Regions from separate parts of the Homo sapiens genome. Here region 2 is linked to region 1. Evidence: fine-mapped expression QTL. A gene starts in region 1. The other region holds a variant in brackets. All regions are shown on one strand. Distances are between the middles of the regions. Region 1 holds the start of LRRC4B (leucine rich repeat containing 4B). Region 2 overlaps LRRC4B (leucine rich repeat containing 4B).

The links. PIP is the estimated chance that this variant, and not a neighbour inherited with it, causes the effect.
Region 2: its variant is the best candidate, but not a certain one, in a credible set for the expression of LRRC4B in subcutaneous fat (GTEx, PIP 0.53).

Annotation. Positions count from the first base shown.
Region 1 is chr19:50,566,704-50,571,207 of GRCh38, forward strand. It overlaps LRRC4B (leucine rich repeat containing 4B), which reads right to left and starts at 1,732. Exons shown (of 3, transcript NM_001080457.2): 1 at 1,241-1,732.
Region 2 is chr19:50,540,888-50,544,887 of GRCh38, forward strand. The region is part of intron 2 of LRRC4B (leucine rich repeat containing 4B); the gene reads right to left. Among named protein-coding and RNA genes, the nearest start is that of LRRC4B, 26 kb to the right of the region's middle. The variant T/G (reference allele first, on the strand shown) is at 1,646.

The sequences.
Region 1 (4,504 bases):
GCCCGGGATTGATGGTGAGTTGGAAGGAGAGGCTCCCAAAAGGAGAGAGCTAGGATTGGGGGGGTCTGAGACTGGGGAGTACTATGGGGTGAGGAGACAACGATGGAGGGGGTCTCTGGGTGATGAAAGGTCATAGAAGGATGTTTCAGAGAGTGATGGGCTAAGGAGAAGGCGACTGGGGGTGTTGGGGAGAAAGGGGAGAGGCTGGGGTGCAAGGCCCAAAGAGGGGCGGGGAGGGAGTGGGAGGAGGGAGCTAGAGGAGAGGGCGGCTGAAGTGAGGGTCTCCTGGACAGAAGGTCTGGAGAGGGATATCTGGGGGATTGTCAGAGATGGGGGTTAGAGAAGGCTGAGGAGCAGATGCCGTGTCTTAGAAGGTCCTAGAAGAGCAGGTGTGAGGGTCGGAAGCCTGGGGAGGAGGCAGCAAATGGGGGGCGGGGGTCTCCAGGAGGAGAGGTTTCCAGGAGGGGAGGGCGGAGGGAGGTGGGAGAGGCAGTGGTCCTGGAGAGACACGTGCCCAAGGATAGAAGGCCCCAAAGCCTAGTGGGGTCAGGGAACGGGGGTCTTGGAGAGACGGAGGGGCAGGGGTCCGAGCCGCCCACCAGGAGAGGCGGGGTGACCCCAGAGGGAGAAGGGCTGAAGACTGGGGAGGGGGTTGTCTCACTCCCCAATCACCCCCTCCGTCTTTCCCATTTTCACTTCCCAAACTCCCCGGTTCTCCCCGGTTGCCACGGCAACCGCTCTTGCCAGGCGCGGTCACCAAGGAAACCCCGTGCCCGCCTCTCCCCCCTCCCCATCACTGGCGTGCCCCCCCCACCCCAAGCAGCAGCGGTGTGGAGGGTGGGAGGGGCCATGGGGAGAGGAAGAACCTGGACTCCCGCCCCAGAAAGGGGGGCCCGGACCTACGCCCGGAGAGCCCCCCACCCTAAGCCTACTTCCTCAGCCCCACAGCTGGATACGCAGCGACCGCCGGACGCACCCCCCACAACCTGTCCCCAGGCAGCGGCGACAACCACCCCCCCCACAGCACAGAACTCGCCCTGCCCGGAGAACCCCCACCCAGTCGCCTCCCCCACCGGCTTCTGCCTCCCATTAGGCCCCGCCCCCTGTCCTCTGCCATCCCCCCCCATCCCGGAGGAGGCCTAAGACCACTGTCCCCCAATTAGCGAATGCCCCCCACCCACCCCCCGCGGTTCCGCCTCCGGCCCCCGCCCCCGACCCGTGCCCCTTGGCGGCTACTCACAGCGAGGAGAGGGGTTCCTTCCGGGGGGCAGCATGCCCGGCCCGTGGGGGGAGGACCCCCCCAATGAGGCTCAGGAATTTGGGGTGCAAGGCCCGCTGCGGGGAGGCGCGGGGGGCGGGGCTGCGGCCGGGCCTGGAGCCTCTCGCGCTCTCCCCCCTCCCCGGCTCCTGGGTGGGGAGGGGGCTTCCGCAGCGGCGGCGGTGGGGCTGGGGGGGCCGCTCTGCCTCCTCGCCTCGCGCCCGCCTGCCGTCCGGCCCCGCGCCCTCGCCCGCCGCCCGCCTTCCTTCTTGCCTTCCTTTCTTTCCTTCTTTCTTTCCTGGCTTCCTTCCTTCCAGCCTTCCTTCCTTCCTTCCTCCCTCCTCGGGCCCGCCGGCGCCGCTCTCCCCCCACCCCACCCCCCCCCAGGCCCCGGCCCCGGCCCCGGCCCCCGCCTCGGACGGTGCGGCAGCGACCGAGAGCAGCCGAGAGCGGCGGAGACGGGAGCGGAATACTGATGATGGTGGGAGCGGGCGGGCGGAGGGAGGGAGCAGGGAGGGAGGCCCGGGAGGAGAGGAAGGGGGGAGAGAGGGAGGGGAGGGAGGGCAGCGTGGAGAGGGAGGAAGGAAAGAGGGGGGAAGAACCGGAGAGGATGGGAGAGGGAGGGAAGAAAGGAGAGGGAGACGGGAGGGAAGGGGAAGGGGGGGAGGAAAGAAGAGGGAAGGGGAGGAAAGAAGGAAGGAAGTGGGAAGGGGGTGGAAGAAAGAAGAGGGGGAGAAAAAGGGGAGGAGCAGGGGAGAGAGGAGGGAAAGGGGAGAGGGTGTGGGAGGGGAGGGGAGAGGAGGGGGTAACTCCTGCAATAAGGTCCTGGATGAAGGGGAGGGGAGGGCGGGGGGCAGGGGGAGTGGGTAGAGGAAGAGGAAAGGAGGGAGAGGAGGAGTGGAGGGGGAGATGGGTAGAGAGATGGGCAGGAGAGGCCCAGGGGCAGGGAAGTGAGGGGAAAGAGGAGGTAGGGAAGGCCTAACTTTGAGGGCTGCAGGGGACAGAGGGGCCTGGAGGGCGGCGGGGGCTGTGGGGAGAAGAATGGGGGGTGCGGTGTGCGTTGTCAGGAAGAGCAGGGGAAGCTGGCAGGACCCGGAAGAGGCAGGAGGATCTAAGTGGGACAGAGATGAGAGGATGGAAGAGGGAGGGAAGGACCCGTCGGGGGGAGGGGGGAGGAGAAAGATCTCGGGGGAGAGGAGAGAAGCTGGGGAGCTGGAGCTTTGAGGGCCCAAGACTGGGTGGCAAGAGCCCGGGGAGTAGACAGAGTGGGGGAGGGGACAGAGGGCCTTTCTTGAACTCCGCTGTATGCCCGCTTCGTCCGCCCCTCCACCTCATGAAGAGAAGAACCTTCAAACCCATTTTCCAGAAGAGACCACTGAGCTCTTGGAGGAGCCAGGATGGGGTTTGAATGCAGTCTTGGGCTGGGGGTACCCTGAGGGAGATGGAGAATGGGTCAGTTCCTAGCTTTCGTCCCTGGTCCAGACTTGGCAGGTGGAGGCACCTGGGAGGGGCAGAGGGCACAGCCTGCAGCCTCCCTACTCACTCTCCTCTCACCTCCCCCAGGTGTTGGCAGCGGGTGCTGGGGACGCATTTAGAGCTGTGAAGCTGAGCTGCATCTTGGGTGCAGGGAGGGGGAGGGCAGATGCAGAGGCCTCTGGGAGGTCACCGTGACCCTCCCCTCTACCTCCCCGGTCCACTACCCCAAAAGCTTGGGCCCCAAGGAAGGGGGACATCGGGAATCAGGGGCGGAGAAACCCAGAAGGAGGGGTGGCCCCTGTCCAGGACACTGAAGATCCTTCCAGATGTTAAAATTAGCACAGAAGTTTCACCCCTGCCTTGTTATCCCCCAAAACGCTGACTAATAACTGAGGACTCAGGAGAGAGAGAAGAAAGATGAAGGTTCCTTCTTTCAGTGCCAGGGGACCCGGGACAGACTCTCCCTCTTCCCCTTCTCCTCGGAGAGCCCCAGGGAGGGAAAGTGTGGCTGTACCCCTGCAGGCAGAGCCTGGGGAGAGTCAGGGTTGGAAGCTGGAAGGAAAGTGGGCCAGACACATCTATAATGAGCCAGGGTTCCCGAGAGAAGCCAGGTCACAGATGGGTTCGGAAGAGGCGGTTTTGGGTGGGCGCTGGTGGGTGCTGAGCCCTGAGAGCTGCCGAGAGGGGAAACTGAGAAGGGGCTGGGCGAGGGCCAGGGAGTGGCAGGTGGCTGTGGTGCTTCGGGTTTCACCCGCCCCTGGCGCCGCTCAAGTCTAGTTCGTGAGACTGGACCAGTGAATGTGTGTGTGCACCAGGGTCCAGCACAGAGTAGGCCAGGACCGATGGTGATACCAGCAAAACAGAATCACATGGTGGCAGCCCGCGGTTCCTCCTGGTCTCCCACAGGCCAGATGCTGTGCCCAGCACCTCACAAGCGTGGCATCAATCCTGCAACCATGCGGTACCAACTCCTAGGGATGGTGGTACCTGGTGGGCACAGGTGAGAGCAGGCCCCTGATGAGCCCTGAGTTAACCCTTTCATTACAAGAGGGTCTCGGCCGGGCATGGTGGCTCGCACCTGTAATCCCAGCACTTTGTGAGGCCGAGGCGGGAGGATCACTTGAGGTCGGGAGTTCGAGACCAGCCTGGCCAACATGGTGAAACCCCATCTCTACTAAAAATACAAAAATTAGCCAGGCATGGTGGTGCGCGCCTGTAATCCCAGCTACTCGGGAGGCTGAGGCACGAGAATCACTTGAACTCGGGAGGCCTCCAGAGGTTGCAGTGAGCCGAGATCACGTTATTGCACTCCAGCCTGGGTGACAGAGCGAAACTCAGTCTCAAAAAACAAACCAAGAGGGTCTCAGGTGAGAGGCCAAGCCGTGTCAGGTGGGGCCGTTAGAGAAGCAGGGAAGTATTCCAATATTTGAACAACCAGCGAACCCTCTTGGTCCATGCAGCCTAAGTCTCAGCCCTGCCTGGAGGGTATGACTGCCCCTGTTTTACTGAAGGAGAAATGATTTGCCGTCAACCTCCAGAGCTCATCAAGGGTCTTCAGCACCGGGCACTGTTCAGGGCTTTGAGAGCCCGGCCGGAGAACAGTAAGGAGACAGCCCCTGTCCCCGTGGAACTGACCCCTCAAGGTCCTATTTCCAAGAGCAGTGTGAGCAATGAAGAAAATAAGAGGACAATTAGGGAGGAGAGAAGTTGGTGGGCGGTCAGGAGGACAGACTTGAGGTGATCAGGGGAGGCCTCCTGGAGGAGGTGTCT
Region 2 (4,000 bases), 26 kb before region 1:
AAATAAAGTGCACCGGCCGGGCGTGGTGGCTCACGCCTGTAATCCCAGCACTTTGGGAGGCCAAAGCAGGCGGATCATGAGGTCAGGAGATCGAGACCATCCTGGCTAACATGGTGAAACCCTATCTCTACTAAAAATACAAAAAAAGTAGCCGGGCGTGCTGGTGGGTGCCTGTAGTCCCAGCTACTCGGGAGGCTGAAGCAGGAGAATGGCGTGAACCCGGGAGGCGGAGCTTGCAGTGAGCCGAGATGGCGCTACTGCACTCCAGCCTGGGCGAAAATGAGAGGCTCTGTCTCAAAAAAAAAAAGAAAAGAAAAGAAAAGAAAAATTAGCCGCTCACAGTGGGGTGTGCCTGTAATCCCAGCTACTCGGGAGGCTGAGGCAGGAGAATCGCTTGAACCTGGGAGGCGGAGGTTGCAGTGAGCCAAGATTGCACCACTGCACTCCAGCCTGGTGACAGAGTGAAGCAAGACTCTATCTCAAAAAAAAAAAAAAAAGAAAAAGAAAAAGCAATGCACCATAAATGTAATGCCAAAACCATCTCCTCGACACCCCAGTCCATGGAAAAATTATCTTCCATGAAACCAGTCCCTGGTGCCAAAAGGGTTGGGGACCGCTGATGTAACCAGTCCCTTGTCAGCAGGAGTTGAGGCTACTTCTAAACGTTGGTAGTCGGGCCATCCTTAAACACAACTCTTTGAAGCCCCTCTAATAATTTCCTTAGGATGGATTGGTTTGTTCCTTAAGCTGGAACCACACTTGCTTGCCATACAACCTCATAGCCGGCCCCAGGAGGGACCCAGAGCCGCCCGCTAAAAGCCTTGGGTGGATTCAGTGGTACTTTGTTAAATTAAGTACATGAATATCCTACGGCCCGGCAATTCCCTCTGGGTATATATTCCACAGAAATGATCATGCAGCTCCCAGAGGGGTCCTGAGGGAGGATTTGCGGTGGGGCAGCTAGAAGCCTCCGGGACGTCCAGTCTCATCAGGAAGCAGTGGGGGACTTGGCAGATGGACGGGGGTGGGTGCCCATCAATTCTGTAGCAGCAACAGCAGCAGAGTGGACACACACAGCAATATGAACCACTCTCAGAAACACAGGCCGAGCGAACACAGTGAGACAAAGACAGCGATCTTAACGCAGCTTCATCTGCATAAATTAAGAATACGTGTACGCAAAGCAACAATACCCATTTTGCAAGAACACACACAAGCAAAAAATCCACAGTAAACACATTAGGAGGACTTTCTGTGGGGAGAGGGTAAGGCGGGGATATGAGGATAAAAGGGAGGGAAGGAGGAAGGAGCCAGTCCGGTGAGGACCAGGTACCTGACTGAGGAGCGAGGAGTGGACAGGCTGGGCCCAGCCGAGGTGGTGCACCTTCCCCCCAGGTCCCGAGGAGATGGAGGCGAAGATCTGCACCCGGTCTTCTCCCAGGGGGCCAGGGCATGTGAGCTGCGGGGAGGCAGTCTCCTGGCCTCTGCCTTAAAAGGCATTTCCTGAGGCTCCAGGCTTGCAGGCCCCACCAATCTCAAAAAACAGTGGTGGGGCCGGGGCAGGGCCTCAGAGAATTGCTGATTTTTTTTTTTTTTTTTTTTTTTTTGAGACGGAGTCTCGCTCTGTCACTCAGGCGGGAGTGCA[T/G]TGGTGTGATCTCAGCTCACTGCAGACTCCACCTCCTGGGTTCAAGCTATTCTCCTTCCTCAGCCTCCCAAGTAGCTGGGACTACAGGCATACGCCACTATGCCTGGCTAATTTTGGTATTTTTAGTAGAGATGGGGTTTCACCATGTTGGCCAGGCTGGTCTCGAACTCCTAACCTCAGGTGATCTGCCTGCCTCAGCCTTCCAAAGTACTGGGATTACAGGCATAGCCACCGCGCCTGGCCATGATATTTTAAAAAACACATCCTCTGTCTTACTATGGGGACCACCTACTGTCTCTGTCATGTGGCAGAAGAACATTTTAACTCTCTCACCAAAGATGAATGGCAACGTTCTAGCTTCCCAGAGAGAGGCCAGCACCGTCACCCCGTGGACTTAGAGTCCCCCAAAGTCCCCGCGAGGTTCTTGCTGCCCACACCGCACCCAGGCCAGGGGCAGGCGAGAACAGGAGTCTCTGAGCCACCCCCCAGAGCTCACGGGAGGGCGTCGCAGGGATTCGCGTCGGCTCCCACCGACAGATGGCTGCAGGCCTCTGCCAAGGATCCGGGCAGGAGTTCGGGAGCTGGCCTCCCATTCAGAGGCAAACAACTGCTGGGCACCTCCTGTGTGCCAGGCTCGGCCCTAGGTGCTGGGGATCCGGCAGGGAACATTGCAAAGTCCCTGCCTTCATGCAGGTGGCAGCGCGGCGGGGGACAGATGACAACCAAGGCGGCAGGTCACACGGGAGGCTCTGGAATCCCCAGAATTCAGCCTGCCGCTACCAATGCTCCAGTGCCAGGCCCTGGTGTGTGTGTGTGTGTGTGTGTGTGTGTGTGTCTCTGTGTGTAAGGGAGAAGTACACTCAAATGAGGAAGCCACATAGAACTCACAGGGCGGTGCTTCTCTCATCATCCCTCAGACCCAGAAACTCCGCTTCTAGGAATTTATCCCAAGGGCAGAGTCCAGAACATTAGGAAGAATGAGCCAACGGATGTCCCCCCGGTGTTGTTCATATCAACTCAGAAATTGGAAATAAGGAGGCCGGGCGCGGTGGCTCACACCTGTAATCTCAGCACTTTGGGAGGCCGAGGTGGGCGGATCCCTTGAGGCCAGGAGTTCGAGACCAGCCGGGTCAATATGGTGAAACCCCGTCTCTACTAGGAAGTACAAAAATTAGCTGAGTGTCGTGGTGGGCACCTGTAGTCTCAGCTACTCGGGAGGCTAAGGCAGGAGAATCTCCTGAACCCAGGAGGCAGAGGTTGCAGTGAGCCAAGACTGTACCACTGCACTCCAGCCTGGGTGACAGAGTGAGCCTCCATCTCAAAAAAAAAAAAAAAAAAAAAGAAAGAAAAGAAAAAAGAAAAAGAAGGGCCTGGTTAAATAACAGGATGCTGGCTGGGTGTGGTGGCTTGGGCCTGTAATCCCAGAACTTTGGGAGGCCAAGGCGGGCAGATCATCTGAGGTCAGGAGTTCGAGACCAGCCTGCCCAACATGGTGAAACCCCGTTTCTACTAAAAATACAAAAAATTAGCTGGGCGTGGTGGTGTGCGCCTGTAATCCCAGCTACTTGGGAGGCTGAGGCGGTAGAATTGCTTGAACGCGGGAGGCAGAGGTTGCAGTGAGCTGAGATTGCACCATTGCACTCCAGCTTGGGCAACAAAAGCAAAACTCCATCTCAAAAAAAATAAAAAATAGGCCGGGCGCAGTGGCTCATGCCTGTAATCCCAGCACTTTGGGAGGCCGAGGCGGGCAGATCACGAAGTCAGGAGATCAAGACCATCCTGGCTAACACAGTGAAACCTCATCTCTACTAAAAATACAAAAAAATTAGCTGGGTGTGGTGGCGGGCACCTGTAGTCCCAGCTACTTGGGAGGCTGAGGCAGGAGAATGGCGTGAACCCGGGAGGCGGAGCTTGCAGTGAGCCGAGATCACGCCACTGCACTCCAGCCTGGGCGACAGAGCGAGACTCCGTCTCAAAAAAAAAAAATAAATAAAAATATAAATAAAAATAAAAAAATAAAAAAGCTAAAACTCCATTTACAAATCAGCAGCAATTGTGCAACACACTGTGCATGGGTGGGGAGGGTGTCCGAATGCAAAGACACCAAAGCGAAGGAGAGCTACCCATGGCTGTGGGATTATGGTTGGCTTCTGTCTTCCTGTTTTTACTTAGGTATATTTTCTAGTTTTTCTCAATTAATTTATATTCATTCTGTAATAAGTAATTAAAAATACACTTATGGCTGGGTTAGGTGGTTTATACCTGTAATCCCAGCACTTTGGGAGGCCAAGGTGGGTGAATTGCTTGGGTCCAGGAGTTCAAGACCAGCCTGGGAAACATAGTGAGACCCTGTCT